Regions from separate parts of the Homo sapiens genome. Here regions 1, 2 and 4 are each reported to be linked to region 3. Evidence: microRNA targets listed by miRTarBase, many of them from high-throughput screens and not tested one by one. Region 3 holds a microRNA gene; each other region holds the end of a gene's coding sequence.

What was found. The annotated mature microRNA hsa-miR-558 reads UGAGCUGCUGUACCAAAAU and lies in region 3 at 2,474-2,492, shown strand. An mRNA with a match to its seed (bases 2 to 7 or 8) in the 3' UTR can be bound and repressed. Matches are read on the target gene's strand: a 7mer-m8 pairs with bases 2 to 8, a 7mer-A1 pairs with bases 2 to 7 and ends in A, and an 8mer does both.
Region 1: the mRNA of CNBP is a reported target of hsa-miR-558. Seed matches in the 3' UTR shown: 7mer-A1 at 3,950-3,956.
Region 2: miRTarBase lists TPD52L2 as a target of hsa-miR-558. Seed matches in the 3' UTR shown: 7mer-m8 at 5,707-5,713, 7mer-m8 at 4,903-4,909 and 7mer-A1 at 4,440-4,446.
Region 4: miRTarBase lists RAB37 as a target of hsa-miR-558. Seed matches in the 3' UTR shown: 7mer-A1 at 3,045-3,051, 7mer-m8 at 3,841-3,847 and 7mer-m8 at 4,325-4,331.

What each region holds. Positions count from the first base shown.
Region 1 is chr3:129,164,311-129,172,506 of GRCh38, reverse strand. CNBP (CCHC-type zinc finger nucleic acid binding protein) reads left to right here. Exons shown (of 5, transcript NM_003418.5): 2 at 736-873; 3 at 969-1,061; 4 at 1,230-1,428; 5 at 1,937-4,680. The coding sequence starts at 750. The coding sequence ends at 2,054. Among named protein-coding and RNA genes, the nearest start is that of ISY1-RAB43, 7.3 kb to the right of the region's middle.
Region 2 is chr20:63,887,521-63,895,716 of GRCh38, reverse strand. TPD52L2 (TPD52 like 2) reads right to left here. Exons shown (of 7, transcript NM_003288.4): 6 at 6,479-6,527; 7 at 4,179-5,867. The coding sequence ends at 5,772. It overlaps DNAJC5 (DnaJ heat shock protein family (Hsp40) member C5), which reads right to left and starts at 591. Exons shown (of 5, transcript NM_025219.3): 1 at 394-591. RefSeq lists a silencer at 510-749, enhancers at 749-1,276, 1,209-1,378 and a cis regulatory region at 1,293.
Region 3 is chr2:32,529,740-32,534,739 of GRCh38, forward strand. It overlaps MIR558 (microRNA 558), which reads left to right and starts at 2,414; the gene lies at 2,414-2,507. It overlaps BIRC6 (baculoviral IAP repeat containing 6), which reads left to right. Exons shown (of 74, transcript NM_016252.4): 60 at 1-85; 61 at 1,616-1,812.
Region 4 is chr17:74,742,718-74,750,913 of GRCh38, forward strand. RAB37 (RAB37, member RAS oncogene family) reads left to right here. Exons shown (of 9, transcript NM_001006638.3): 4 at 412-478; 5 at 571-623; 6 at 1,591-1,656; 7 at 2,156-2,212; 8 at 2,291-2,367; 9 at 2,589-4,618. The coding sequence ends at 2,694. It overlaps NHERF1 (NHERF family PDZ scaffold protein 1), which reads left to right and starts at 5,911. Exons shown (of 6, transcript NM_004252.5): 1 at 5,911-6,570. The coding sequence starts at 6,130. It overlaps SLC9A3R1-AS1 (SLC9A3R1 antisense RNA 1), which reads right to left and starts at 7,150. Exons shown (of 3, transcript NR_187307.1): 1 at 6,346-7,150; 2 at 5,856-6,210; 3 at 2,883-4,826. It overlaps MIR3615 (microRNA 3615), which reads left to right and starts at 5,896; the gene lies at 5,896-5,982. RefSeq lists enhancers at 4,465-5,060, 6,349-6,974 and a silencer at 5,455-6,144.

The sequences.
Region 1 (8,196 bases), not on the chromosome of region 3:
GGGTTCAAGCGATTCTTCTGCCTCAGCCTCCTGAGTAGCTGGGATTACAGGCGCATGCCGCCATGCCCGGCTGTTTTTTGTATTTTTAGTAGAGACGGGGTTTCGCCATGTTGGCCAGACTGGTCTCAAACTCCTGACCTCAGATGGTCCACCCGCTTCAGCCTCCCAAAGTGCTAGGATTACAGGCATGAGCCACCGTGCCCAGCCACTACCAATTATTTCTCTTAATGGATTTTCATTGACCCTAACCCTGTAAATTCCATCACTTTTATCAAGGTGTATATTATAATAAGTCTATAATACCCAATCATGTAGTTGTGTGATTATTTTATTTTTTTGAGACAGAGTCTCAATGTTGCCCAGGCTGGAGTACAGTGGCACCATCTCAGCTCACTGTAAGCTCCGCCTCCTGGGTTCACACCATTCTCCTGCCTCAGCCTCCCAAGTAGCTGGGATTACAGGCGCCTGCCACTTCACCGGGCTAATTTTTTGTATTTTTCGTAGAGACGGGGTTTCACCATGTTAGCCAAGATGGTCTCGATCTCATGATCCACCCACCTCGGCCTCCCAAAGTGATGGGATTACTGGCGTGAGCCACCATGCCCAGCTATTTTTTTAACCAATATATTAGCTAGCTTTTTTCCCCAGAATAATTTTCCAAAAATACATTTAATAGAGAATAAAAGTTAAAAGAACTTTCAGTGGTTTAATGCTGTTACTTTTAATATTTCAAAGATCTGACTGCAGCCATGAGCAGCAATGAGTGCTTCAAGTGTGGACGATCTGGCCACTGGGCCCGGGAATGTCCTACTGGTGGAGGCCGTGGTCGTGGAATGAGAAGCCGTGGCAGAGGTGGTTTTACCTCGGATAGAGGTATTTTGTCGAATAGAAAAATTTGAAGTACTTCAGTATTTGTTAGTATCAAGACTGGTCTGACTAGCCGAATTCTTTGTTTTTGCTCAAAACAGGTTTCCAGTTTGTTTCCTCGTCTCTTCCAGACATTTGTTATCGCTGTGGTGAGTCTGGTCATCTTGCCAAGGATTGTGATCTTCAGGAGGATGGTAAGTATTTAACACTTCCTTTTCATACCCCTCTAGAGCTTGGAGAGGTGAGCACATGCAACTGTGTATAGCATTTCCACCTTTGAGGTTTTGTATTGTATAATTTAAAACGTAACACTTTGTAAAGGTTTTATAGTCTTGGCCTGTTTCTTTTCCTTATTGTTGAAGCCTGCTATAACTGCGGTAGAGGTGGCCACATTGCCAAGGACTGCAAGGAGCCCAAGAGAGAGCGAGAGCAATGCTGCTACAACTGTGGCAAACCAGGCCATCTGGCTCGTGACTGCGACCATGCAGATGAGCAGAAATGCTATTCTTGTGGAGAATTCGGACACATTCAAAAAGACTGCACCAAAGTGAAGTGCTATAGGTAAGGTGTCAGAATGTTGTTAGAAGAAAACTCATTGCAGAGATTCTTCCAGAGATGAATTAGCTATAAATGGAAGGGCCTTAGTAAATTCAGTGAAACTTAGCTGTGACCAGATAAGACCAATTTTCAGCATATGTAACTGGCAGTCTATCTGTATATAATTCTGTATTCTGCCCTGATATCCTGTGGCTTATGGTACCTGGGCAGTTTTCACAACTGGACTTTTTTAATATATAAAAGTAAGAGTGTTATAATTTGAAACTTCCAGAGACTTCATAGAAAGCTCTGTAATATACATAAATCTTTTATCATGTAACCAGAAATCTTTGCCTGTTTGTGACATGTAAGTGTATAATTTGATAAATGTTGTTGTGTACATATCTGTGAAACCTTAGGGGTTAATTGCATGAAAACAAAGATCAGGCGTTTTGTTCTGCATGGTGACTGTTGCTTTGGTAGACAGTTTTTTTCTGAGGCCCATTGTGAAAACTTTTAATTTCTTTTTTAGGTGTGGTGAAACTGGTCATGTAGCCATCAACTGCAGCAAGACAAGTGAAGTCAACTGTTACCGCTGTGGCGAGTCAGGGCACCTTGCACGGGAATGCACAATTGAGGCTACAGCCTAATTATTTTCCTTTGTCGCCCCTCCTTTTTCTGATTGATGGTTGTATTATTTTCTCTGAATCCTCTTCACTGGCCAAAGGTTGGCAGATAGAGGCAACTCCCAGGCCAGTGAGCTTTACTTGCCGTGTAAAAGGAGGAAAGGGGTGGAAAAAAACCGACTTTCTGCATTTAACTACAAAAAAAGTTTATGTTTAGTTTGGTAGAGGTGTTATGTATAATGCTTTGTTAAAGAACCCCCTTTCCGTGCCACTGGTGAATAGGGATTGATGAATGGGAAGAGTTGAGTCAGACCAGTAAGCCCGTCCTGGGTTCCTTGAACATGTTCCCATGTAGGAGGTAAAACCAATTCTGGAAGTGTCTATGAACTTCCATAAATAACTTTAATTTTAGTATAATGATGGTCTTGGATTGTCTGACCTCAGTAGCTATTAAATAACATCAAGTAACATCTGTATCAGGCCCTACATAGAACATACAGTTGAGTGGGAGTAAACAAAAAGATAAACATGCGTGTTAATGGCTGTTCGAGAGAAATCGGAATAAAAGCCTAAACAGGAACAACTTCATCACAGTGTTGATGTTGGACACATAGATGGTGATGGCAAAGGTTTAGAACACATTATTTTCAAAGACTAAATCTAAAACCCAGAGTAAACATCAATGCTCAGAGTTAGCATAATTTGGAGCTATTCAGGAATTGCAGAGAAATGCATTTTCACAGAAATCAAGATGTTATTTTTGTATACTATATCACTTAGACAACTGTGTTTCATTTGCTGTAATCAGTTTTTAAAAGTCAGATGGAAAGAGCAACTGAAGTCCTAGAAAATAGAAATGTAATTTTAAACTATTCCAATAAAGCTGGAGGAGGAAGGGGAGTTTGACTAAAGTTCTTTTTGTTTGTTTCAAATTTTCATTAATGTATATAGTGCAAAATACCATATTAAAGAGGGGAATGTGGAGGACTGAAAGCTGACAGTTTGGACTTTTCTTTTTGTACTTAAGTCATGTCTTCAATAATGAAAATTGCTGTTAAAAGGATGTATGGGATTTAGATACTTTTGCAAAGCTATAGAAAATTCACTTTGTAATCTGTTATAATAATGCCCTTGAGTTCTGTGTTCAGTCTGAACAGGTTTTTTGGTGGTGGTGGTTTTGTTTTGTTTTGGAGACGGAGTCTCACTCTTGTCGCCCAGGCTGGAGTGCAGGCTTGGCTCACTGCAACCTCCACCTCCCGGGTTCAAGCAATTCTCCTGCCTCAGCCTCCTGAGTAGCTGGGATTACAGGCACCCGCCACCACCCCCCGCTAATTTTTTGTATTTTTATTTTTATTTTATTTTTTTATTTTTTTTTGAGACAGAGTGTCGCTCTGTTGCCCAGGCTGGAGTGTAGTGGTGCGATCTCGGCTCACTGCAAGCTCCGCCTCCTGGGTTCGTGCCATTCTCCTGCCTCAGCCTCCTGAGTAGCTGGGGCTACAGGTACCCGCCACCGCGCCCAGCTAATTTTTTTTTTTTGTATTTTTAGTAAAGACGGGGTTTCACGGTGTTAGCCAGGATGGTCTCAATCTCCTGACCTCGTGATCCGCCCGCCTTGGCCTCCCAAAGTGCTGGGATCACAGGCGTGAGCCACCGCGCCCGGCCTATTTTTTGTATTTTTAGTAGAGACTGGGTTTCATCATGTTGGTCGGGCTGGTCTCCAACTCCTGACCTCAGGTGATCCACCTGCCCCGCCCCCCAAAGTGCTAGTGTTACAGGTGCGAGCCACCGTGTCTGGCCGATTCTGAACAGTTTTAATACCATTGCTATTTTTGTGTTTTTCCTGGGCCTTTTTTTTTTTTTTTTTTTTTTTTGAGACAGTCTCGCTCTGTTGCCCAGGCTAGAGTGCAATGGTGCAATCTCAGCTCACTGCAACCTCCACCCCCCACCCCCACACCCCGTTCAAGTAATTCTCCTGCCTCAGCCTCCCAAATAGCTGGGATTACAGGTGTCCGCCACCACACCCAGCTAATTTTTGTTATTTTTAGTAGAGATGGGGTTTCACTGTGTTGGTCAGGCTGGTCTCCAACTGTTGCCCTCAGGTGAGCCACTGTGCCCCACCTTTTCCTGGGTTTCATAAGGATCTGAAGTGGTGGATTCCTTGTTTTTGCTAGTGTCTCATTTAGAGTTGAGATGGACCTTAAAACTCATCTGTTTTAACTCACTTTTTAATAGATGAGTTAAACTTAATTTACTTAAGGATGTACAGTTAGAGCCTGGAACTTCAACCATTATTCACTCCCCATGCCCTGTTTCCCCCCACTTCGAAATTAAATGCGGTTAGCATCATATAGTTCATTTTCCCCCTCCATGCTGCTGTGTGATTCTTGACTTTGGGTATGAGTTTTTCATCCTTCATGCAGGGTTCTGTCAGTTCATGGTATAGTGATTCAGTGTTAAAATGGTGGTGTCTCAGCTGTGCTGTGCACATTCCAACCTTGTCAAATTAATAGTCCTGAGCAAGCAAGAAAAAGAGGTAATAACATACCCATTTCTTTATGAATATAAGCTTATAATATTTTTTCATGTGCTATTTTTACTGAGCAAATTGTATGTCTCACATGTTAACACAATAAATATCTTGACAATTTTATTTTCTACCATATGTATGAAACAGCATAAGGAAAGACTTTTTTTCGAAGGCATCACTGTTAGGTTGGGGGAAAGATTTATTTTTGAAGGCATCACTGTTAAATGAGGTTTGGGGGCTGGTGTGCACATGGAGTTATTTCCCCCCAAATTCTGGGCCTCATGTAGGAAAACCTAAAACATAGCAAATGGGATATGTTGTTATGGCTCTTCAGGTCAGCTTAGTTCTCATTAATAATACTTTCTCCTGCGTTAATCACAGCTTTGTGTGTTGGGAAGGGAAAAAGTAAAGTGGGTTGGTTAAAATTTAGAACTCCTTTGCTTCATGCACCCATTCCTTGTGCTGAATTTGTAGTACTTTAGTTGCTTTGTGAGACCTTTTGAAACAACATAATTAAGGACCTATTCACAGGAGACTACAAAGTGTTCCTTTATAAGATAAAATTTATTTGCATTGACCTTGATGACTGGAAAGCAAATGCAACATGAAAATGTGTATTTTACAGAGAAATCCGGCTAACTAAAAGGAGTCACACTGGGCGTGGTGGCTTATTCCTGTGATCCCAGCACTTTGGGAAGCCAAGACGGGTGGATCATGAGGTCAGGAGTTCGAGACCAGCCTGGCTGACATGGGGAAACCCTTGTCTCTACTGAAAATGCAAAAATTAGCCAGGTGTGGTGTCACACGCCTTGATTCTCAGCTACTCAGGAGGCTGAGGCAGGAGAATACCTCGAACCAGGAGGCAGAGGTTGCAGTGAGCCAAGATTGGCGCCATTGCGCTCCATTCTGGGGAACAGACAGACTCCGTCTCAAAAAAAAAAAAAAACAGTACAATGAACCCCCCATGTGTTCTCGATCTAGAGTTAACAATAGTTTGAAAGTAAGTTATAGACGTGACATCACTTTATCATGCATCTTATAAGATGTTCTCATTACCACAGTACCATTATCATACTTAATGTATCTAAACATTCCCTAGTATCTGATATCTAATACTATATTCAAATAGCATAATTGTGTCTAAGAAGTGTTATGTAGCTACGTTTTCCAAACCAGGATCCAGTCAGCATTTATGAGTTGCATTAGGTTAATTTGTTTCTTTTTCTTACTTTGAGAAGGAGTCTTGCTCTGGAGCTCAGTGGCATGATCTTGGCCCACTGCAACGTCCGCCTCCTGGGTTCAAGCAATTCTCGTGCCTCAGCCTCCTGAGTAGCTGAGATTACAGGTGCCTGCCACCAAGCCCAGCTAATTTTTTTTAGTAGAGACAGGGTTTCACACTGTTGGCCAGGTTGGTCTCTAACTCCTGACCTCAAGTGATCCGCCCACCTCAGCCCCCCAAAGTGCTGGGATTACAGGCGTGAGCCACTGTGCCCGGCCAGGTTAATCGGTTTCTTTAGTTTGTCTTACTCTCCTAACTTAACTGTTAGGAGGCTACAACAGTTTTTTTGAATGTCCTCTATTTACTGGTTTTCTTACGGTACCGTTTAACTTGTTTTTCTATATCTCTGTATTTCCTGGTCTGGAGGCTAAATTATTAGGTTCAGCTTAAAGTTTTTGCCTTTTTTTTTTGGACAGAGTCTTGCTATGGGCACCCAGGCTGGAGTGCAGTGGCTCAACCATAGCTCCCTGTAGCCTTCAACTCCTGGGCTCAAGGGATCCTCCCACTTTCAGCCTCCATAGTAGCTGGGACTACGGGCGTGTGCCACCAAGCCCGGCTAATTTTTTAATTTTTTGTAGAGATGAGGTCTTGCAGCCAGGCACCGTGGCTCACGCTTGTAATCCCAGCACTGGGAGGCTGAGGCGGACGGATCACCTGAGGTCAGGAGTTCAACACCAGCCTGGCCAACATGGCGAAACCCCATCTCTACCAAAAATACAAAAATTAGTGGGGTATGGTGGCAGTTGCCTGTAATCCCAGCTACTCAGGAGGCTGAGGCAGAAGAATCACTTGAACCCGGGAGGTGGAGGTTGCAGTGAGCCAAGATGGTGTCACTGCACTCTAGCTTGGGGGATAGCGCGAGACTGCCTCCAAAAAAATGAGGTCTTGCTACGTTGCCTGGGCTGCTCTCAAACTACTGGCCTGAAGTGATCCTCCTGCCTTGGCCTCCTAAAGCACAGGAATTACACGCAAGAGCCACTGTGTCCAGCCTAGTAATTCTTTAGTGGCATGCATAACTCTGTGTTTAATTTTATTCACTTAAAATTAGCCGGGTGTGGTGGCGGGCACCTGTAGTCCCAGCTACTGGGGAGGCTGAGGCAGGAGAATCGCATGAACCCGGGAGGTGGAGCTTGCAGTGAGCCGAGGTCCTGCCACTGCACTCCAGCCTGGGCCACAGAGCAAGACTCCGTCTCAAAAAAATTTTTTTTTCTTCACTTGATGAAAATATTTTTTCTAATTTGTTTTTTTGAATCAAGATCCAAATGCTCTCTATACATGTGTTTCATAATGTCTCTTAAGTGTCTTAAGTCTCTAATAGTTTCCTGTCTTTACTGAAGAAAACCTGAGGTTGATTCTATGACCTATATTTGGCTGATTGGTATCATTGTGATATTGTTTCACATGATTTTTAACCCCCGTGGTTTTTGTAAAATGGTAGATTCAGAAGGTTGATTTTACATATATATAAACCTATATACATAGGTTCTGTTTTTTTTTTTTTCTTTCTTTTTTGAGACAGAGTCTTGCCCTGTTGCCCAGGTTGGAGTGCAGTGGCGCTATCTCGGCTCATTACCTCTGATTCCCAGGTGATTCTCCTGCCTCAGCCTCCCAAGTAGCTGGGATTATAGGTGCCTTGCCACCATGGCAGCCTGGTTTTTTTTTTTTCCTTTGTGTTGGAGTCTTGCTCTGTCGCCAAGGCTGGAGTGCTGTGGGAGCGTGATCTTGGCTCACTGCAACCTCCACCTCGCAGGTTCAAGCAATATACCTGGCTAACTTTTGTATTTTTAGTAGAGGTAGGGTTTCCCCATGTTGGCCAGGCTGGTCTCGAACCCCGGACTTCAAATGATCCGCCTGCTTCGGCCTCCCAGAGTGCTGGGATTACAGGCGTGAGCCACTGCACCTGACCTCTTTTTCTTTCTTTTAGACAAGAATATATCATAGGAGATGCAGTGTGCTTACTGTTGCATCATCAAGAGGTGCAAAATCTCAGGTTTTAGTTTTGGTGATCATAATCAGTTGGTTCGGTGATTTCAGTTTTGTCCATTCATCTTGAAGTTCCCCATTAATCTTGTACTAAGTGGTTTTTACGGTTTGAGAGCCATGGATGATAGATACCCTGGAAGACTTCAGTTATAAGGAACAATTAATGGAAGAATTCTAAATCATTTAAAATGCAAGACTCCCAGGAATTAATGTGTGCTCATTCTTTTCTTTTTTCCTTCCGTCCGTCCGTCCCTCCCTCCCTCCCTCCATTTTTTTTTTTTTTTTTTTTTTTTTGACAGAGTCTTGCCCTGTTTCTCAGGCTGGAGTGCAGTGGCACAATCTCTGTTCACTGCAACCTCTGCCTCCCAGGTTCATGC
Region 2 (8,196 bases), not on the chromosome of region 3:
CCAGCGATGGCCCAGCTTCTCCAGTCCCCCCGCAGGAGAGGAGACCCCGGGGGGTTGGGGGCGGCCGCGGGGACCTGGGGGAGCGGAGGGGGCGTCCGGGCCCGAAGAGACCCGCGGAGAGCGCCGCCCCAGCCCCCACCACGGTGCTCAGACCCCCGGCCCGGCCCGGCCCGGCTCCCGCAGGCCCCGGCGCCGACCTTCCCGCGCCCCCGCCCCGGCCCAGGCCGCGGCGTCGCAGCAGCTCCGGCCCCGAGCGCCCGCGCAGCCCCGGCCCGGGGGTCGCCGCCATTTCCGGCTCTGGAGTGCCGCCCCCGCCCCCCACCCGCGCCCGCCCGCCCGCCTGCCCGGGCCTGACGTGGGCCGATCCGCCCGCCCGACCCGCAGCGAGCTCACCTGCCCGTCCGCCCGCCCGCCCGCCCTCCCGCCGGCTCCGCGGCTCCGCTCCCCGATTCGCGGCGCTGCTGGGCAGCGGCCGACGCACTCCTCAGCCTGGAGACCCCGGGCGGCGGCGGCGGCGGCGGCAGAGGGCGCGGGTGCGGCACCGGCAGCGGCAGCGGCAGCGGCAGCGGAGACGAGCACGCTCACGCACGCACCCGCACCGGCGCGCGCGCTCCCGGAAGGACGTGGGCTCCGGCGTGTCGGAGCCGCGGGTGGGACCGGCTGCGCATGCGCTCAGAGAGCCGAGCGGAGGCTCCGTCCATGAAGGGGCGGAGTCCCGAGTGACAGCCCGGGGCCGAGGCGCCCTGTGGAGGCTCCGCCCATGAGTGGGCGGGGACGAAGCGCGGGGGCGGAGCCAGTCCTCCCAGTCTTCAGGTGGCCGCAGGTGGGTCCCGGGTGGACACGCCATGTGCTGCGGGGAACCGCGCAGAAAGAGAAGCGCAGGGCTTGCTGGTCTTGCAGGTGAGTTTACTCAGCGCTTTAAGTAAGACTGAGAAAACGTAATCGTTCTCATCAAAGAACTGAACAGGGAGCTGGTGGGAGACGGCTGCGGACCGTCGCCCCCGCCCCCACCCGGAGCCACCGTCCTGGGACTGACATTTGCTCAACCCTGGAGCGCCGAGATGGGACGTCCTTCCTTCCTTCCTGTCCAACCACTGAAATGCCGTCGCCAGCGCCCTCCCACCCTCCCGGAATCATCTCCAAACAGCAGCGTGGAGAGGCAGGACCACGAACGTCCACTCCACCTCCCTCTGCCCTTGCCCATCCCGTCGGCCACCCTTCCCTGTCCCTGTAACTGCAGGCGCTCCGCCACTCACTGACGGCCTGCCCCGCGTAGGCTGCCTGGGCCACTTCCCATCCTAGAAGCTCCCAGACCTCTGCGGCCGGTGCTCCTGCCTCCTCGCTTCCACCCTTGCCCGTTTACCTGAGTTCAGTGCGGTCATCTTTTTAAAACAAACCCAGTAGCATCCAAGGCTTCCCGTGACACACTGCGTGAAACCCAAATTCTCTCTCAACACGCTCTGGCCTCCTTCCTCTGCCCTCATAACTCACTGCCATAATGCCGGTCTTGAATTGCCAAGCTTGTTCCAGTCTCACAGCCTGGAAGTGTCAGAGCTTGGGAAGCCTCCTAGCAGTCATTAAGCTGCGCAACATCAAGCAGGCAGCAAGAAAAGGCCTATGGAACCCAAGAAGCAGAAAGGCCAGGTTCATATCTACAACTATAGATTCCAAGAGAATGAAATATTTCAGGCCAGAATTGGAGGGATGAGAGAATGAAATGGGCCTGGTACCGATCTCAGATTGAAGCTATATTCCACTTGTGCTGGGAGCTGCAAGAATGAATGAACCAGCCTTAAGTGAGTCCCTCTGAGACCTAGCAGTTCCACTTTAGGGACATTCTTCCAAAGAAAATATTCCTAAATACAGAAAAAGGTATATGCACTGAAATATTCATGAAGGCACTATTTTTAATAGCGAGAATGGAAACCTGCCCAACTGCACAAGTGAGCACTCAAATGGAATAATATAGTTACTGAAATGTATACAACGGGACCCATGGCTCACGCCTGGAATCTCAGCACTTTGGTAGACCAAGGCAGGAAGATCACTGGAGCCCAGGAGTTTGAGACCTGCCTGGACAACATAGTGAGACCACCATCTCTATAAAAAAAAATTTTTTTAATTGGCCCGGCCACAGTGGCATGCATGCCCCTGTAGTCCCAGCTACTCAGGAGGCTGGATCGGGTGGGAAGTCAAGGCTGTAGTGAGCCATGATTGTGCCACTGCATTCCTGCCTGGGTGACAGAGCAAGACCCCATCTCTTATTTAAAAAGAAGAAAAAAAGAAAGATAATGTGTAGAAAGGCTACACAGGAGCAAAGAACTCCTGAAACTAAAATGAGCACGATGCATGATATGTAAAAAGTATATTATCACACATATATCTATCCATGAACATTCCAGCCTGCTTGGAGAAAATAAGACAGGAAGGTACGCCCGGGCACAGTGGCTCACACCTGTAATCCCAGCACTTTGGGAGGCCGGGGTGGGCGGATCACCTGAGGTCAGGCGTTCAAGACCAGCCTGGCCAACATGGCAAAACCCTGTCTCTACTAAAAATACAAAAATTAGCTGGGCGTGGTGGCATGCCCCTGTAAATCCCATCTGCTCGCGAGGCTGAGGCAGGAGCATCGCTTGAGCCCAGGAGGTGGAGGTTGCAGTGAGCTGAGATTGCACCACTGCACTCCAGCCTGAGCGACAGAGTGAGACCCTGTCTCAAAAAAAAAAAAGAAGACAGGAAAGTTGACAGTGGCTACAGTTGGGAAGAGTCTGATGTTTACCTCTGATACATCAGGCCCTGTGCTAAGTGCTTTATAAGGTTAAGCCTTTCAATATGATGAGGCAGATACCATTACCCTCACTCTGAGAAGAGGGGACTGAGCCTTCAGGCATTGCTGCCCGCTCCTCAGGTCCACTTACTCCACTTGCTCCATCCTCGAAGCTCTCCAAGCGCTTCACCTCGTCAAACACAAGCCAGTGACTTAGGGGAATCTGTCTTCCCCAACAAACGGGTTGCAAAGTCCTTGAGCACTGGGTCCACATCAGATTCACCCTTGTACCCCACAAAACCTAGCAGACTCTTACCCGCAGGGCAGTTACAGTATCTGTTCAATAAATGAAGAACACATGAACTCATTCCAAAATAAATTAGTGTAAATCTTGACTGCAGGCGGCAATAGTGCATTTCACCCTTTATTGGTACCAGCTCCCTGCTGTATTGGGGCTTATGTACCATACAATTCGAGGTCACCTAACTTTCCCTGCTCTTACATCTGGGGTGAGCCCAGCTACCTCTGACCTCCAAAGGAAGACTGGTGCTCCCACTAGTTTTCCAGTGGGAACTCCAAAGACTAGGAATGGATACATGCAAAGCGCCAGACCAGGGGCAGAGTGGAGGTTCCCCCTCAAGGGTCTTTTCCTTTTTCTTTTTCTTTTTTTTTTTTTTTTTTGAGACAGAGTCTCGCTTTATCGCCCAGGCCGGAGTGCAATGGCGTGATCTCGGCTAACTGCAACCTCCACCTCCCGGGTTCAAATGATTCTCCTACCTCAGCCTCCTGAGCAGCTGGGATTACAGGTGTGAACCACCACACTCGGCTAATTATTTCACTTTTTTGTAGAGTCAGGGCCTGGCTACGATGCTCAAGCTGGTGTCAAACTCCCAGGCTCAAGTGATCCTCCCATCTTGGCCTTCCAAAGTCCTGAGCTTACAGACATGAGCCACCACACCCAGCCTACTGTTTTTAGTTGAGATGGAATCCCGGTATGCTGCCCAGGCTGGTCCTGAACTCCTGGGCTCAGGTGATCTGCCTCACCCTCCAGAATGGCGGGGACTACAGGTGTGCTCAGCAGCAGCTCAGTGCTTGCAGGGGCAGCTGGCGAAGCCTCTGGAGCTCCCGGCCCAACCTGGAGCCTGGTGAGCTCCTCCTCCGCCTCCTGGGGCTCAGTTTCAACTCCTCTTCCCAAGACGCTGGGTCTGACCTCACAGGTTGGCCATATACCATTCTCCCCTCACAGCTGGCTCCCCTTGTCCCAGCATTGAGGACCTGCCCTTTGTCTTTAGCACTGTCCCCTGCCTGCCTCTCCCAAGGGTGCGGACTCATTAGGGCAGGTACCGTGTGCCAGTTCATTTACCACTCTTATCATGGTCCCGAACGATACATCACACAAGCCGAGGCGGACTTTCCCCCAAAGGAATGCTTTATTGACAAATTACCCATTATTATAATAACTTTAAGGAAAAGATACATCGGTCAACACCCGCACAACCTGCCTTCTCACCACACCCCACAGGCCGATTTTAACCCTGGACGAAGGGCACCGAGCGCTGGGCTTCCCTGGCCCCTGCATCTCTGTCGTGTGTGGAGTGCCATCCCCAAGGGTGTCTGAACTGTCCGGGGACACGGCTGTCAGAGGACACTTGCTCTACCGAACAGGACACCTTGAGCTGAGCAGCCCTTCCCCTCCCGGGAGTGGCAGAGCCGGGCACACCACAGGCAGGCCCTCAGTGTCCTGCCAAGAGCCACTAAGGCACAGAGCTCCCCCTGCAGACCACGCCATCTGACATGCAGGGCCCCGGTGTGCGAGAGAGGCTGCTGGGGTGCGACTATTTAGTAACAGGAAGAGATCTTTGTAGCTCCTGAGAAAAAGACTGTAACGGCAATCCTGGCTGATGCCCACGCCCCACCCTCCACCTGACCTGTGGGGTCGTTTCATCCCAAGTACAGCAAGCAGGAGGGTTGGAGTCACTGACGAATGTGAGCCGGGCCAGGCCCATGCAAAGGCAGCACTGAGAAGGGGGGCACAGTTCTTTTAAAGGGTGCTAAAGACAGGGTTTTCCTTCTCTTGGCCCCTCCCATTCCCAGAGGCTCAAGAGCCCTTTAGGGCAGGGCATAGGAGCCAGCGGGAGCTGCCACGGTTGAGAAGAGAAGCAGGTTTTGTACACTGGGATGGAGTGTGCGTGACATAAAACACCTCAACTGGAAGAGGCTGCCACGCAGGCCAGGTGTAAAATTCCACACAATGCTCACAACCATTAAGGAACCCTCATCTATATACATATAAAAATTAGAAAGAAATAAAGCATAAGGCAATGTAAGGCTTGTATTTCAGCTTGAGTCCAAAGAAATAATATTCTATGAGGCTAAAGCTGCTTTGCCTAATTTAAACTTTTTGAAAAGTCCACTGCATTTAAAAAATAATGAATTTGCTTCCGTTAAAGCTAGATTCGCGTAACAATCAGGCAGCTGCTGAGGGTCAGTTTCCTTTCTGGGGGTCTCAGAAAATGGACAGTTTTCTCGTTCGGCATTTTGAGATAAAAAATTGCGTAACAGGTAGGACTTGCTGGGTGATTGCATTCCTTCTGTGAGTCAGGGAAGGAGGAGGAGGAAGAAGTCAGAAAATGCCACTTATTTTATGCTTAGAACTCTTCAATCCTTCAACATTCTGATGGGCTAACATGATTCCCAAAGGGAGCCTGGGCTTTGGCTCAATATTCTTTCAAACCCTCCGCCCTGTCCACTTCCTGCACCCCTAGGAAGGACAGCACAGTGATCTGTTTCATCTACAAACGTGAGTGTAAAACATCTGTGTACAAGCCTGTGTTCTTCAAATTCATGCAAACGCGGCAGCCACATCTCCGCGTGGATGGGCAGGACTGTCCTCAGGGCCGGCTCTGCTCATCCGCCCTGGCTGGCTGCTCCGCTGAACAGAGCTGCGGCTGTGATGCTGAGGCTGGGTTGCGTGTGCTCTGCAGCGGGTGAAGCAACCACAGGCTTAGAAAGGTGCGGGATCCGACAGGGGCTTGTCACCACTCCCCGCTGAGGAAGGGAGGTTGTCACTGCCGTTCTCTCTGTCACCCACAACCTTAGACTACAGGAGAGAAAAGATGAAGACAGAAAAACCTGAGACAGAGCACACAACACAAGGCAGATCCCAGGCCCATGCTCAATGCTCTACAAAAGCTTATGTAACACGAACACTGCTCAGCAGGGACAGGGAGCAAATCACGGACGGGCACCAGCCCCAACAGGTCTCCAGAGAACGATGCCAAATGAAGACAGTGAATGCCAAAAAGCTGCACACTGTATCGTTCCATTTACGTGACATTCTTGAAATGACACAATTATACAAAGGGAGAGTGGACTAGGGGTTGCCGGGGGTAGGGCGGGAGGAAGGTCAGCATGGCCAAGAAGGTACCAGGAAGGGCAGTGGGGACCAGGAAGGGCAGTGGGGACCAGGAAGGGCAGTGTGGAGGCGTTCTGTGTCCTGAGTCAGTGCCAATGTCCTGGTGGGGAGGCTGCACTACAGGATTTTCCAAGATGTCGTCACAGGAGAGAACTGTGTAAAAGGCACAAGGAACCTCTCTGCATTACTTCCCACAACTGTATGTGAGTCTACCATAACTAAATGACTAATAATAAACAAGTTGCTGTAACAGGTCACACCTTGCCAAGACCATCAAACAGTCCAGGTACAATTACCTTTATGGTCCCAACTCGGTCCTCAAACGACTTGAAGGTCGCAGAGTTCCTTTAAAGAGAGAGGGAAGAGTGTCGGTGTCAAGAGGAGAGGGTTGTGCTGCTCTCCTAACTCGGAAGGGCCTCAGGGTTAGGGCCAGCCTCCAAAGGGTCCCTAACAACATCCCAAGATCTCATGGCAAAACTGTGAGACAGCCAGGTCATTCCGGAGACTCCCCAGGTCAAAAGTGAGGTCGGCCATGCCCAACAACCACAGGGACAGGTCCAGACGTCACACAAGGCAACTGGAAACCCCTTGACTGTGCAGCTGGGGAGATGTCGGCCCCTCTCTGTCATACCCTACAGGGACATCCCGGGCTCTCGTACTGAGGTTATGAAAAGTCTGTGCAGTTGGGGGGCTGTCGGCCCCTCTCTGCTGTCCCCTACAGGGACACCCCGGGCTCTCGTACTGAGGTTATGAAAAGTCTGCGCAGTTGGGGGGCTGTCGGCCCCTCTCTGCTGTCCCCTACAGGGATACCCCGGGCTCTCGTACTGAGGTTATGAAAAGTCTGTGCAGTTGGGGGGCTGTCGGCCCCTCTCTGCTATCCCCTACAGGGACACCCTGGGCTCTCGTACTGAGGTTATGAAAAGTCTGCGCAGTTGGGGGGCTGTCGGCCCCTCTCTGCTGTCCCCTACAGGGATACCCCGGGCTCTCGTATTGAGGTTATGAAAAGTCTGTGCAGTTGGGGGGCTGTCGGCCCCTCTCTGCTATCCCCTACAGGGACACCCTGGGCTCTCGTACTGAGGTTATGAAAAGTCTGCGCAGTTGGGGGGCTGTCGGCCCCTCTCTGCTGTCCCCTACAGGGACACCCTGGGCTCTCGTACTGAAGTTATGAAAAGTCTGTGCAGTTCTTCATGCACATCTCTCAGAGAAGCAAACGGAAGACCAAGGACACTTCTGGGACAGCAGAGTGATAAGGAGACAAGAGGAGAAAGCAGGCCAGCTCCATCCCACTCAGTCCCTCCCACACAAACAGATACCCCTCCCAGGCCCGGGGACTCTAGAGGCCAGCACGTCTGCGACACCCAGCCAGAGTCCCCACAAGGAGAACAGGGCTCTCCTGAGAATCAGGGCGGTGCCTGACGGCGCAGGCACAGAATAGGGACCACAGTTCTGGGCTCTCCTGAGAATCAGGGCAGTGCCTCACGGCACAGGCACAGAATCCTGAGAATCAGGGTGGTGCCTGACAGGCACAGAATAAGGACCACAGCTCTGGGTGTTTCCGTGAAGGCTGAGACCGTGAAGTGTCCTGAGTGACAGCCCACCAGGGCAAGTGCCAGGATCTGTGTGCGAGCCCCTCGAACCCCACCCCACCCACTGCAGGCAGCCAGGGTCAGGACTTGGAAAGGACACGGCCCAGTTTGACACAAGGATCTCCTCTGGAGGCTGCAGGTGAAGAGCCTGACCCCCTACCAGCTCTTCCTCGTCAGCCTAGAGGGGGTTTTTACCGGCCCTTAGTCATCAGAGGTTGCCAAGGGAATGGAGTCCTCAATTAATCCAGGAATATGGGAAGGGCAAGGTGTAACCGGCGGGAGCTGCCCCAACCCCCACCAGAGACACCCGGCTCTGGAGCCGCAGCGAGCAGGCATACATTACCTCATGGCTGGCATACTTATTGAGTGGCGGATGGAGTAGCTGCTGCTTGGAAGCATGGCAGAAGCAGAGAAGGAAGCAAGAGTTA
Region 3 (5,000 bases):
CTGACTGTTAAATTGGGATCAAGAGTTATAACAGACCCCAGTCTATCAAAAACAGATTCTTATAAAAGACTACACCCTGAAAAAGGTATGTGCATAATACTACTTTAAAAATTACAGACTGTCATACAAAGAGGCAGAGATTTCTATAGCTAATGACTTAATTGACTTGTGTTTTTATTATATCAACATAAGATATAATTTTTTTATGACTGAATTTTTGTAAATATAAAAAATGGCCATTATTTCATTTGGAAACTAAGTTGCATTATTTCTTATAACATCATTTGTTTTATGAGCGCATGTACTTTAATTTCTGATATTTCTGTGAGAGCTATGTGAATTGTCATTTTATAATAAAAGTGAGAAACTCAACTTACAACTTTGTTATAATTTATATTGAGTGGCATTTCTTGCATATAAACATGTTTTCTCATATAATTGGGATCACATATTTTTGTTTTTTACTTATATATTCCATTAATTTTTTTTGAGACAGAGTCTTTTTCTGTCTCCCAGGTCGGAGTGCAGAGGCACGATCTTAGTTCACTGCAACCTCCGCCTCCCGAGTTCAAGTGATTTTCCTGCCTCAGCCTCCCGAGAAGCTGGGATTACTGGCACCCACCACCATGCCTGGCTAATTTTTGTATTTTTTGTAGAGAGAAGGTTTCACCATGTTGGCCAAGCTACTCTGTAACTCCTGACCTCAACTTATCTGCCCGCTTCGGCCTCACAAAGTGCTGGGATATAGGCATGAGCCACCGCACCCGGCCCTTATATTCCATTAAATATTTTTGAATATCCATTTTTGAATTGGCTATTTTTTCATAAAAATGTAAGAAAATTTATTTGTTCCCCAATCATCGAAACATTGTGGTTGTTTCCAATTTTTACTCCTATAAATGCTATATAAGTAGTTTTCATAGTGTGAGTATGATATGAACTTACTTAAACTTTCCATCTTTCTCATGACTAAAATTCAGTCTTTAGTTATTGGTCTTTTGTATTCTTCAGCAAATTTTGGTACATTGTCTTTGCCCAGTTTTTCAGCACGATTATTTCTCTCTTTTGTTTTAATGTTTAAAGGGTCTGGTTACGTGACCTTTTGGTTTTCTTTGGTGAGTAATTCAGAGTTAAACTAATATGGTATAATTTTTTGTTTTAAGTAAGGGAAGTCTTTGTCATTAATTTTTCTTAATAGGATACTTTAGAGCATATTATTTGCTATGAGAACTTTGAGAACTTATTTATTTTAACATAGGATATACGTTAAAGTATGCCCTAAAGGACAGTGCTTCTCAAACTTCAGTATGCTTACAAATGACCAGCATCATACTGTTAAAATGGAGATTCTTCATTTCAAACTAGCTTGCAGGTGATGCCAATACTACTAGTCCATGAACCATTCTTCCAATAACAAGACTAAAGAAGGCAGTATCAGAAGTCATTTAAAGGTCATTGTACCGTCTAGCCATAATACAGCTATATCTAAATAAATGATGTTTTGTGCTCTTTTTTGAGTAGCAAGAAAGCAGTAATACCTGCTTTTGTAAATGAAAGAATATTATAAAAATATACCCTTTCTTACCTATTCAGTTATTTGTAATTTATTGTCTAGATCATGGAGACTTACTTGCTAGCTGTCCAGAAGATGAGGCTCTCACTCCAGGTGATGAATGCATGGATGGGATACTGGATGAATCTTTGCTTGAAACCTGTCCAATTCAGTCACCATTACAAGTTTTTGCAGGAATGGGTGGACTGGCTCTTATTGCTGAAAGACTACCCATGCTATATCCAGAAGTAATTCAACAGGTAAGATAAGATTTCCTAATCGAGTATATCATTCCATAGCTAAGCCCTTCATTCTTTTTAATGTTTGTTTTTTAATGTACTTGGATTAACTTTGTAGAAATACCCTTTGCTTTATATTTTTTGAACATTATATAACTCTTTCAATGGTCAGTCTGTACAGAGCTTCATGACCTTCAGTAGGTATGGAAGAAATGTTGAAGATCAAGCACACTTGCCAGACTTACTACACTGTTGCATTTATCTTGATTTCATGGTTGTAACACTAGCATTCTCTTTTCTATGCTGCTTTAAGTGTGATATTTATTAGAGATATTATTGGAAATAGGAGAAGTAAAATAGCAGTGTATACTGCCACCAATATATGTCTTTTTGTTTACCTTTTATTCCTGTTTCAGGTGCCATTTCCATTTTTGGTGGTTTAAAAACATGACCTATTCCCGTGTTCATTTACGAAGCTGTCAATGTCTGTGCTTTCCATGCTCTTGTATCAATCAGTAGGAAGTATGGTGCATGGAGAGTTGTAAAAACAAAACTTTGTGTTTGTTGAATGAAGTAGGGGAATTATTCTCTTTGATTTCATGTCGTGTGTGTGTGTGTGTGTGTGTGTGTGTGTGTGTGTGGTTATTTTGGTATAGTAGCTCTAGACTCTATTATAGTTTCCTGAGCTGCTGTACCAAAATACCACAAACGGGCTGGCTTAAAACAACTGAAATTTATTCTCAATAGTTGAGGAGGCTGTAAGTCTGAAATCAAGATATCAGCAGGGCCATGCTCCCTCTGAATTCAGGCTGTAGGGAAGACTCCTTCCTTGCTTCTTCCTGGCTTCTATTGGTTGCCAGTAGTTCTTGCTGTTCATTGGTTTGTAGCTGAATCACTTTAATTTCTGCCTACGTCGTCATATGGCCATCTTTCCTGTGTGTCCTTGTATCTCTTTCTCCTTATAAGGACACCAGTCATTTAATGTAGGGTCCTGCAAACCATTATCTCCTCATCTTAACTTGATTACATCTGCAAAGGCCCCATTTCCAAATAAGGTCATCTTCATAGGTGCTAGGGGTTAGGACTTGAACATATCTTGGGAGGACAAAATGCAACACACAATAATACTTATTCATGTTATTGCTTCCCTAGTATTCAAAAATATAAGATGATATAACTATGTTATAAGGTGATTGACACAGAATGAGCAAAATTTTCTTACTAGACAATGACATAATTACTCAAAAGTTTGAAGCAGAAAAGACCCCAACATTTTCAGCATTATTATTGCTCAACATAAATGATTTTTTCTAATTTAGTATTCAGTGTGGTTCACTATATTGATTAGTAACTGGAAATGGGGTCCTGGTAATACATACCTAAGAATGTGAAAGTGACTTTAGAATTGGGTACTTGGCAGAGTATGGAATAATTTTGAGTAGCATGATTTAAAAAAAAAATCTAGATTACCTTGAATAGATTGTTAGATAAAATGTGGATGATAAAGCTTCTGCCAGTGAGGGCCCAGAAGGAAGTAAGGATCATAGGGGAGAAAACCTACAGTGTCTTAGAGAATATCTGAATTGTCATAAGCAGACTTGGTAGACATACAGGTGTTTAAAGTGCTGACAAGGTGGTTTAGAAGGAAATGAGGAACATGTTACCGGAACCTGAAGGAAAAGGGATCTTTGTCATATAGAAGCAGAACTATTAACTCATTTGTGTCCTAAATATAGAAAGCAGCACTTCTGCTGTAATGAACTTGGATGTAATGAACTTACATGTAATGAACATGTAATGAACTTGGATGTTTAGCTGAGATTTCCACACAAAGTGGTGAAAGTACAACCTGTCTTTTTCTTGCTGCTTATAGTGAAATGTGCGAGGAAAGATATAAATTGAGAGAAGAACTGTTGAAAAACAAGCAATCAGTGCTTGTCAATTTGTGAAATTACCTATCCAGATCACAGAAGGTGCTAAAATTTAGATATTTGCTATCAGAAAAGCATGCTCCAAAGTATAAGCCAAGAGTGAGGCTGGACAACCTTTTGCTAGTGCCTTAGAAACATCAAAAGTCAGAGTATTCAGTCACATAGAGGGCTCTTTGAAGAGATTAGGCATGTAACTCATGGATCTCCTCAGCCGTCTAAGCATAAGCGAGGAATAGAGGATATGATGTGATGATGGAAGCATCCAAGAGCCATGGAACGTAAGTAGCCTCTGGAAGCTGGAAAAGGTGAGGAACTGTTATTTCCTAAGAGCCTCCAGAAGCAATGCATCCTTTGATTTTAGTCCCATAAGACCTGTTTTGGATTTCTGACCTCTGGAATTTTAAAATAATAAATTGTGCTGTTCTGAGCCACTGAGTTTGTGGCAATGTGTTATAGCAGCAGTAGAAAACTAATACAGAGTTTGGTCTGTAGTTGTAATGCCTTTGTCTGGTTTTGGTGTCAGGATACTACTAGCTATATGGGATGGGTTGAGAATTTCTAATATATCAAATTAAGGATACTGTTAGGTGTGTTTAATAAGAGACACTGTCTGGGCATGGTGTAATCCTAGCCTGTAATCCTGTAATCACACTTGTAATCCCAGCACTTTGGGAGGCCAAGGCAGGAGGGTCACCTGAGGTCAGCAGTTCGAGATCAGCCTGGCCAACATGGTGAAACCCCGTCTCTACTAAAAATACAAAAATTAGCCCGGTGTGGTAGTGGGTGCCTGTTATCCCAGCCGTTCAGGAGGCTGAGGCAAGAGAATTGCTTGAACCCGGGAGGTGGAGGTTGCAGTGAGCCGAGATGGCTTCATTGCACTCAAGCTTGGGTGACAAGAGTGAAATTCCATCTCAAAAAAAAAAAAAAAAAGAGACACTGCAGATTGCAACAGTAGTGAACTGGAAGATGTATCAAAAGAAATCATTCGGCTTGGCGCGGCAGCTAATGCCTGTAATCCCAGCACTTTGGGAGGCCGAGGCAGGCGGATCACCTGAGGTCAGGAGTTTGAGATCAGCCTGGCCAACATGGTGAAACCCCATCTCTACTAAAAGTACAAAAATTAGCTGGGCGTGGTGGTGGACGCTTGTAATCCCAGCTACTCGGGAGGCTGAGGAAGGAGAATTGCTTGAACCCAGGAGGCAGAGGCTGCAGTTAACCAAGATCGCACCACTGCACTCCAGCCTGGGTGACAGAGCAAGACTCTGTCTCAAAAAAAAA
Region 4 (8,196 bases), not on the chromosome of region 3:
CAGGTTTAAGAGATTCTCCTGCCTCAGCCTCCTGAGTAGCTGAGACTACAGGTGCATGCCACCACACCTGGCTAATTTTTTGTATTTTTAGTAGAGACGGGGTTTCACTGTGTTAGCCAGGATGGTCTGGATCTCCTGACCTCGTGATCCGCCTGCCTCGGCCTCCCAAAGTGCTGGGATTACAGGTGTAAGCCACCGCGCTCGGCTGAGGAGATGATTTTGAACGAGCTTGAGAAATCAGTAACTGCTACTGTCCAGGTCATTGGATGCTCAGGGGCTCATGAGAACCTAAAGAAGAAAACAGCCCCACCTTCCCACAGATATCTCATACAACAAAGCAGGCCTGCTCCACCCAGCACATTCCTTGCACCTGCCTCCTTCTGACCATTTCTCCATCCCATCCCTTCCCAGATCTGGGACACCGCTGGGCAGGAACGGTTCCGAAGCGTCACCCATGCTTATTACAGAGATGCTCAGGGTGAGTCCCTCGCACCCTCCAACCCCTACCCCAGCCCCTTGGTAGCATCCGTGCTGCTGCCTAAGTCCCCTCTGTGATCCTCTCCCCTCCAGCCTTGCTTCTGCTGTATGACATCACCAACAAATCTTCTTTCGACAACATCAGGGTAGGTCCTCCCTTCCCCTGACTCCCACCCATAAGCAGCCAAGGCAAGGTCTATGCAGGCTGGGGTTGCTTCCTGCCCTGTGGAAAGCGGGTGGAGCGTGGAGTCCTCCTGCCTTCTGAAAAACACCTACTTGTGACTCAGAAGTCATATCTGCTGCTTTGTATTTGGTGGCCATGTGGGCATGAAGGCCAAGCAGGCTGTTGTGACCCTGTGCCACCTGCATAGCCCTCACTGTGATTCACGAGTGTGTTTCGTGACAAAGTGTTCAGAACAGCCCCCACTCCACCCTGGATAATTATCCACAGAGACCAAGGGAAAAACACAACCAGAAAAGTCCACACATACATCCAGGGCAAGTTGCAAGAAAGTGACTCAGTCAGACAGAGTGAGTGGTTGTATCCTCACAACCAAACTATTATAGAGACAAAAATTTGATAAATTCAAGCACCAATTTTGTTCACGACATTGTATAGGTTTCATGAATCCCCTGACCTCAAGGACAGTTTGCTGATAAGCAAACTAGGAGAATAAAACGTTTATATAGAAAGAGGAAAATCCATGGCACTCATACTCCTACCTCCAACCCCATGCTCATGGCAGACATCACTAATCAATCACAGTACTTTTGATCACTGAAACCCTTATGTGGTCTTAGAATCTTTAACAGGACACTCCAAGAAATCACTGCTGACAGCCAACTGATTTGTGAGATAAGGTCTCCATGCATCTGGATCTTCCATAGAACTGATAGTTGCACAGCATAAAATGGTGAGGGTGGGGCCATTGTGGGTTGAGCCACCAAGGAAGGCCATCCAGGCCTGGATGGGCCAGAACAAAGGTACAGATGAGAGAACGCACAGGGTATCGTGTTCAAGGTAGTGAGTAACTGAGGATAGTCAAACGGAGCAGAAGAAGAAAGGGGCAGCAGGAGGAAGAGAATGCCAGTCTCGCACGCCCTCTCCCACAGGCCTGGCTCACTGAGATTCATGAGTATGCCCAGAGGGACGTGGTGATCATGCTGCTAGGCAACAAGGTGAGTGGCTCCGGGGCAGGGTCAGCCCAGCCCTGCACTTCCTCAGCCCTAGCCGGCCCCATAACCACCCAAGAACAGTTATCTAGGCATCCTTCCTGAAAAGGACTCTGCAGCCTCCAGCTCAGGGGTCAGACATATCTGGAGGCTTCTGCCCATCCCATCTGCCCCTTCCAGGGAAAGTCCAAGTTGTTGCCTGAGAAATCAAGGGGTGCCCAGTTCTCAGCCCCCATTAGAGCAGAGTGAACAGGGTCCCAGGTCAGGGGCTAAGAGTGCAAAGGGTTAGCCCCAACTGCTGTCCTATTCCAAGACCCTTTACCAAAGGTGAGATCCCAGAGCTGGGAGCTACACTGGGCAGAAACCCTGGCCCCAGGCCAATCACACCTGCCTGCAGTCCCTTGGGCCACCAGCAGAGGGCAGGCAACGCCTGCTTCTGGGGCAAAATATGGGCCCGCTGGGGCGGAGGCCTCCTTCCCCAGAGTGACCCATTTGGGCTTGACAGGCGGATATGAGCAGCGAAAGAGTGATCCGTTCCGAAGACGGAGAGACCTTGGCCAGGGTAAGTGATTGTCTGTGGGACAGGGTGAAGGGTGGGGGCAACCCGACGCTGGCCCTGAGGACACTCTCTCCCGGGCAGGAGTACGGTGTTCCCTTCCTGGAGACCAGCGCCAAGACTGGCATGAATGTGGAGTTAGCCTTTCTGGCCATCGCCAAGTGAGAGCTGGGCAGGGAAGGGAAGTGTGCGGGGCAGGGCGGCACACTCCAGGAATCCAGTAGGGCCCGGCCCCTGGCCCAGCCCCTGGACACACCTGCATTCTGCAGGCTGAGGTCCATTTGCTCTGGGAGCACTGGGCCACTGGGAGAGGGGAGGGGGCGGCTCAGCTCCTCACCCCAGCCCAGCCCAGCCCAGCCCAGCCCATTGTCTCTTCTTCAAGGGAACTGAAATACCGGGCCGGGCATCAGGCGGATGAGCCCAGCTTCCAGATCCGAGACTATGTAGAGTCCCAGAAGAAGCGCTCCAGCTGCTGCTCCTTCATGTGAATCCCAGGGGGCAGAGAGGAGGCTCTGGAGGCACACAGGATGCAGCCTTCCCCCTCCCAGGCCTGGCTTATTCCAAGAGGCTGAGCCAATGGGGAGAAAGATGGAGGACTCACTGCACAGCCGCTTCCTAGCAGGGAGCTATACTCCAACTCCTACTTGAGTTCCTGCGGTCTCCCCGCATCCACAGGGAGGGTAAAACACTTAGCTTTTATTTTAATAGTACATAATTTAATACCAAAAAAGGCGCCTGGATCCCCAAAAAACCGAGGCTGGGAGCTAGTGGCCCTTTTGCTTTCTAGGACTTGGGGGGCCGGCCCTCCCTCCTAAGCATAACAAAGGTGGTGTTGCTCCAGCTCAGCCCCAGGGGACACAGATGCACTTTGGGGGTGAGGGCAGGTAATGACTCCATCGCACCCTCAGTTCAGCTGGACAGAGGCTCAGGTGACCCCAGCCTTCACTGTCTCCCGCTCTCCAGGAGCTTATCTTCGCCCCATCTCCCAAATAAGTGGGCCCTTGTGCTGTGAGGAAGACCAAAGCCTCAGGGAAGATAAGAGATATGGAGATGGGAGGGGGAGGACAAGGGGCAGAGAGTAGGGTCTAGCTGGCTATCTCTGGCCTTACTAACACCCCCCTGGAGGCATGCCCCTTTTCTCCAGCACACAAGCACATTGGGGCACCTGGAAATATTGGTTCCAGGCTCCTGTTCTCTGGACTTCAGATCCTGGGGGAGCCCCTCCCCCCCCTGAATCCCTGGCTTAGCTACCTTCCTGCCTGTGCACCTAAAAACCTCAGGTCAGAACTAGGAAAAGAGTTTTGTTTTTATTTTTTTGAAATGGAGTCTCGTTCTGTCGCCCAGGCTGAGGTGCAGTAGTGCAATCTCCGCTCACTACAACCTCCACTCCCTGGGGCTCAAGCGATCCTCCCACCTCAGCCGCCGAAGTAGCTGGGACTATAGGTGTGTACCATCACACCTGGCTAATTTTTGTATTTTTTGTAGACACAGGGTTTCGCCATGTTGCCCAGGCTGGTCTTGAATTCCTGAGCTCAAGCAACCTGCCGGCCTCGGCCTCCCAAAGTACTGGGATTACACGCAGAAGGCACCATGCCCAGGCTAGATGTGTCTTATCCCAATCCTTTGGCAGGCATGCAGCTCCACAGGCGATTTCTTCAAGCAGCTGAAGTGTTTAGCCCTCCTGGGTTAAGAGCCAGATAAGGAGAAATCCCTTTCCTAGGTTTGGAATGTGTTGTGAAAAAAAAGAGAAATCCCTGGCTCCTGGAGCTGGTGGGAGACAAGATTAAGCAAACCTCCCCTGACATGTATCCCTTTGACCCCAAGCTCTGCCTCCTCCCTGACCACCCATGCCCTTTCCTTTAACTTCTCAAACAGATACCAGGGCCTAAACTGCTTTACCTCCCCTCCTACTGAGTCAGGTTAGGTGGTGGGAGGTCACCCATTTCCGAGTTAAACCAATGCAATATGAGTAAAACAAAGTCATGTGGGTATGTCTGGGGTAGAGAGAGGGGTAGCAAGTTCATGTGTCCTCCTTGGTCACATATCTCCCAAAGCTCCGATCCCTGCCATGGGAAGTGGACAGGAAACATGAGGTCATGACCTGCAGGCATCTTTACTGCAGCTCTGCCGGCCTGGAGGGGGAGAGGGGGAGGAAGAAGTATGCGCTGCACATTTCTGAGGCTACTGCATTTGCTTTCAAGGCAGAAATCTTGCTCTGAGCAGTCAGCGGCTCCAGTTTGGGCCCGATAAGGAAGTTCTCCGTGGCCTCCCTCAGGCAGAGCAGGGAGGAGGCTGACATTGCCAGTCTCTTCTGGGGCCCAAGGCAGGTTGCAGGAGATCCAATCCCATAGACAGCTCTGGGCCTCTTGCATTTGAGTTTTTCAGAATTAAACTGCAGTATTTTGGAAAGCACATCCTGTCCACTGTTTCTTTGAAGTGAGTGGGGGGGGGGGGTCTTGTTGAAGGAATTGTCATTCACTGCCAAAATCATTCCATCCTCCTTCCTCAGTGTCTGTCCTCAGATGGTCAGCTCCCCGCTCAACAGACTGTCTCCCGCCTCTGTGACCAGCCTCTCTTTGGCAAGAGGGAGCTAGAAGGCTTTACAGTCCTAATCATTTTTCTGTTGGAAAAAAAAAAAAAAAACCAAGGCTCCTTTCCCTGTGGCGTGTACCCAGAGGTTGATTACCTGAGTCTGTCCTGCCTCTCCCCACCCCACCTCCCTAGCCAAACGCTGCTGCCAAAGCCCACGCTATTGCCCTAGATGGCCTGTCTTCAGCGGGCTGCCCCTCGAGGTCCCAGGCTCTCCGCGGAGCCCTCACCTTCCCAGCAGGGATCAGAACCTGCACTCCTCTATGCGAGTCCTGGGACAGCACAAAGTGGATTAGGGTTAGGGTTCCCACAAACGGAAAAATGTTATTCAAACAACTCTGTAGGGTCCGAGGAGGCCCTCCGTCTTAATTCTCGAGACTGACCGGCCCTCGCTGCCCCGAGCGGGAGCAGTTGCCCCGGCAACAGCCGCTCCCTCTCAACTGGAGCTGCACCCAGGCTTTGGCTAAAGGCTGTTAAAACGTTGGCCAGGTGCGGTGGCTCACGTCTGTAATCCCAGGGCGGATCACCTGAGGTCAGGAGTTTGAAACCATCCTGGCCAACATGGCGAAATTTCGTCTCTACTAAAAATACAAAAATTAGCGGGGCGTGGTGGTGCGCGCCTGTAACCCCAGCTGCTCGGGAGGCTGAGGCAGGGGAATCGCTTGAACCCGGGAGGCGGAGGTTGCAGTGATCCGAGATCGCGCCACGGCAGTCCAGCCTGGGCGACAGAGCGAGACTCCGTCTCAAAAAAAAAAAAAAAAGTTAGGGTCCTTTACCCGAGGGCCGGCTTTCCTCACTCCCCGCCACAGGTAGGGGAAACCAGGCCGGAGCCGGCGGGCCCACCCGCCCAGAACCGGGAATTCGGCGAGCCCCGCCCCTGCCACCCCAGCGCCGGCCGCTCGGTAACAAACACTTCCACTTCCTGAGCGCTAGTCTTCGCCCGCCGCGGGGCGCCGCGCCGAGCGCAGGCCCCGCCCCGCGCGTTCCCAATGGCCGGCGCCGTTCACCCGGCCGGAGCGCCCAGGCCTGCAGCCCCCTATTGGCCCGCGGAGGTCCCCACCCTCAGCGCGGCCCCGCCCCCGGGGTAAGGAGCCGGGGCGGACTCTGGGACGCTCAGACGCCGCGCGGGGCGGGGATTGGTCTGTGGTCCTCTCTCGGCTCCTCGCGGCTCGCGGCGGCCGACGGTTCCTGGGACACCTGCTTGCTTGGCCCGTCCGGCGGCTCAGGGCTTCTCTGCTGCGCTCCCGGTTCGCTGGACGGGAAGAAGGGCTGGGCCGTCCCGTCCCGTCCCCATCGGAACCCCAAGTCGCGCCGCTGACCCGTCGCAGGGCGAGATGAGCGCGGACGCAGCGGCCGGGGCGCCCCTGCCCCGGCTCTGCTGCCTGGAGAAGGGTCCGAACGGCTACGGCTTCCACCTGCACGGGGAGAAGGGCAAGTTGGGCCAGTACATCCGGCTGGTGGAGCCCGGCTCGCCGGCCGAGAAGGCGGGGCTGCTGGCGGGGGACCGGCTGGTGGAGGTGAACGGCGAAAACGTGGAGAAGGAGACCCACCAGCAGGTGGTGAGCCGCATCCGCGCCGCACTCAACGCCGTGCGCCTGCTGGTGGTCGACCCCGAGACGGACGAGCAGCTGCAGAAGCTCGGCGTCCAGGTCCGAGAGGAGCTGCTGCGCGCCCAGGAAGCGCCGGGGCAGGCCGAGCCGCCGGCCGCCGCCGAGGTGCAGGGGGCTGGCAACGAAAATGAGCCTCGCGAGGCCGACAAGAGCCACCCGGAGCAGGTAAGCGGGGCCCAAGCCGCGCAGGCTGGCATGGAGTGGGAGGAGGATCCGGAGAGACCCAGGTGCCCCGGCCGTCCAGCCCCGCGCCCGCCGTCGTTTTTCTGAAACTCGAGCTGCGAGGGGGAGACCGCTTCCGCCCGCCGACCAGGCGCCCTGACACATCCTAGGCAGGCCTGGGGCTGCGTCCCGCGACCTCCTCTCCTTCCCAGGCTGTGCTGGGAGCTTGAGCGCCTTTGCCGCCTGCACCTCTTGTTCCCTGGCCTTTGGGAGGGCGGCGCAGGGGAACCCAGCCCCCTTCCCTCGGGTCTGTGGGTGTCTGCTCCCGTTCCTCGGAATCCCCCAATCCTGCTCCTTCCCTGGTGCCCTCTCCTCGTTCACCCCAGTCCGCAGATGGGCCGGGGAGAAAGGGCTCTCCGCCCCAGAGGTGCCAGCTTCGCCCGCCACTCCTACTTCAAAAGCTAGAGGAATAGCATTACTCCTCCTGTGTGGAGCCCCGGCGCGAGGAGGCCCTCTCCGCAGCCCGCCGGTGTGTGTCCTGAACTTCAGTCCTGCTGGACTTCATCCTCCCGGAGTCCTGTGTGACTTCTAAGGGAGAGGAAGCCCCACCATCTCAGGGCGGTGTGGGGGTTGCCTGGCAGGGAGGAGGAGCCAAGGCATCTCGGAGTGGTGGTTCTGCCACCTCAGAGGATTTACGATTCTCAGGAATGTGAAGAGTAAGCGCCTAGAACTGTATCTGGGAGGGAAGGGGAAAGACCTTGGAAGAAGAAAAAGATGGCCATGGGGAGGAGAGAGAGCTCCTGGGGCTCACGGCCCTGTGTGCGCCAGCGGAGCTCACGGTGAGCCGGTGGTCTTGCCCTGGCCTTGCCATGGTCACTCTGGTGCCCACACAGCCAGCAGGCCGGTTGCTTTTTGCCCATGTTTGGTGTTTGCCCATGGGATCCCAGTTTGGATCAGCTGCAAGAGGGGCAGCTGGCAAAATAGGAGTTGTGCTGAGCCTCCTGTCCCCAGAGAGTGGAGTGGTGCATTGTGTAGGGCAGGGCGTGAGCCTCCCAGGACCCCTTCAGCTTGCACCACCAGCTCTCCCTGGTGGCAGTGTCTGATGGGAGTGTCCGTGGGGCTACGAGGAGCCTCCTGGACAGAGAAAGGGCACAGTTCGGCATTAAGGTAGAAGGCAAAGCCCTAGAGGATCAACTGGTTTGGTGGAAGTGAGGTCACCAGAAGCCCTGTCCAGCCAGAGCTGGGTGCTGGGAATGCCAGGGCCACCAGGCTCCCACTTCCTGCCCCTGCCAAGCTGGCATTGGCAAGGGGAGGGGGAAGGGATCTGAGCACCCGGAGCAAGGAGGTTGATGCCAGGGAGTTGGGGCCGATGATCTCCAGTCCCAGGCAGAAATCCAGTGTGAACTTTGTGCTGAGTCCATCGATCGATTTGACATTCTTTTTTTTTTTTTTTTTTGGACTTTGGCACCCACACAAATACCCACCCACCCCCACCCCCCACAAGTTGCAGTCTCGTTCAGCTCCTCCCTTTGCCCTTTTGGTTATGCTGCTGGGTGCCAGAGGGCCTGGGAGGCGAACGTGGAGGCCTGGCATAGCACACGTGCGCAAAGGCAGCAGCTTTGAGCTTCC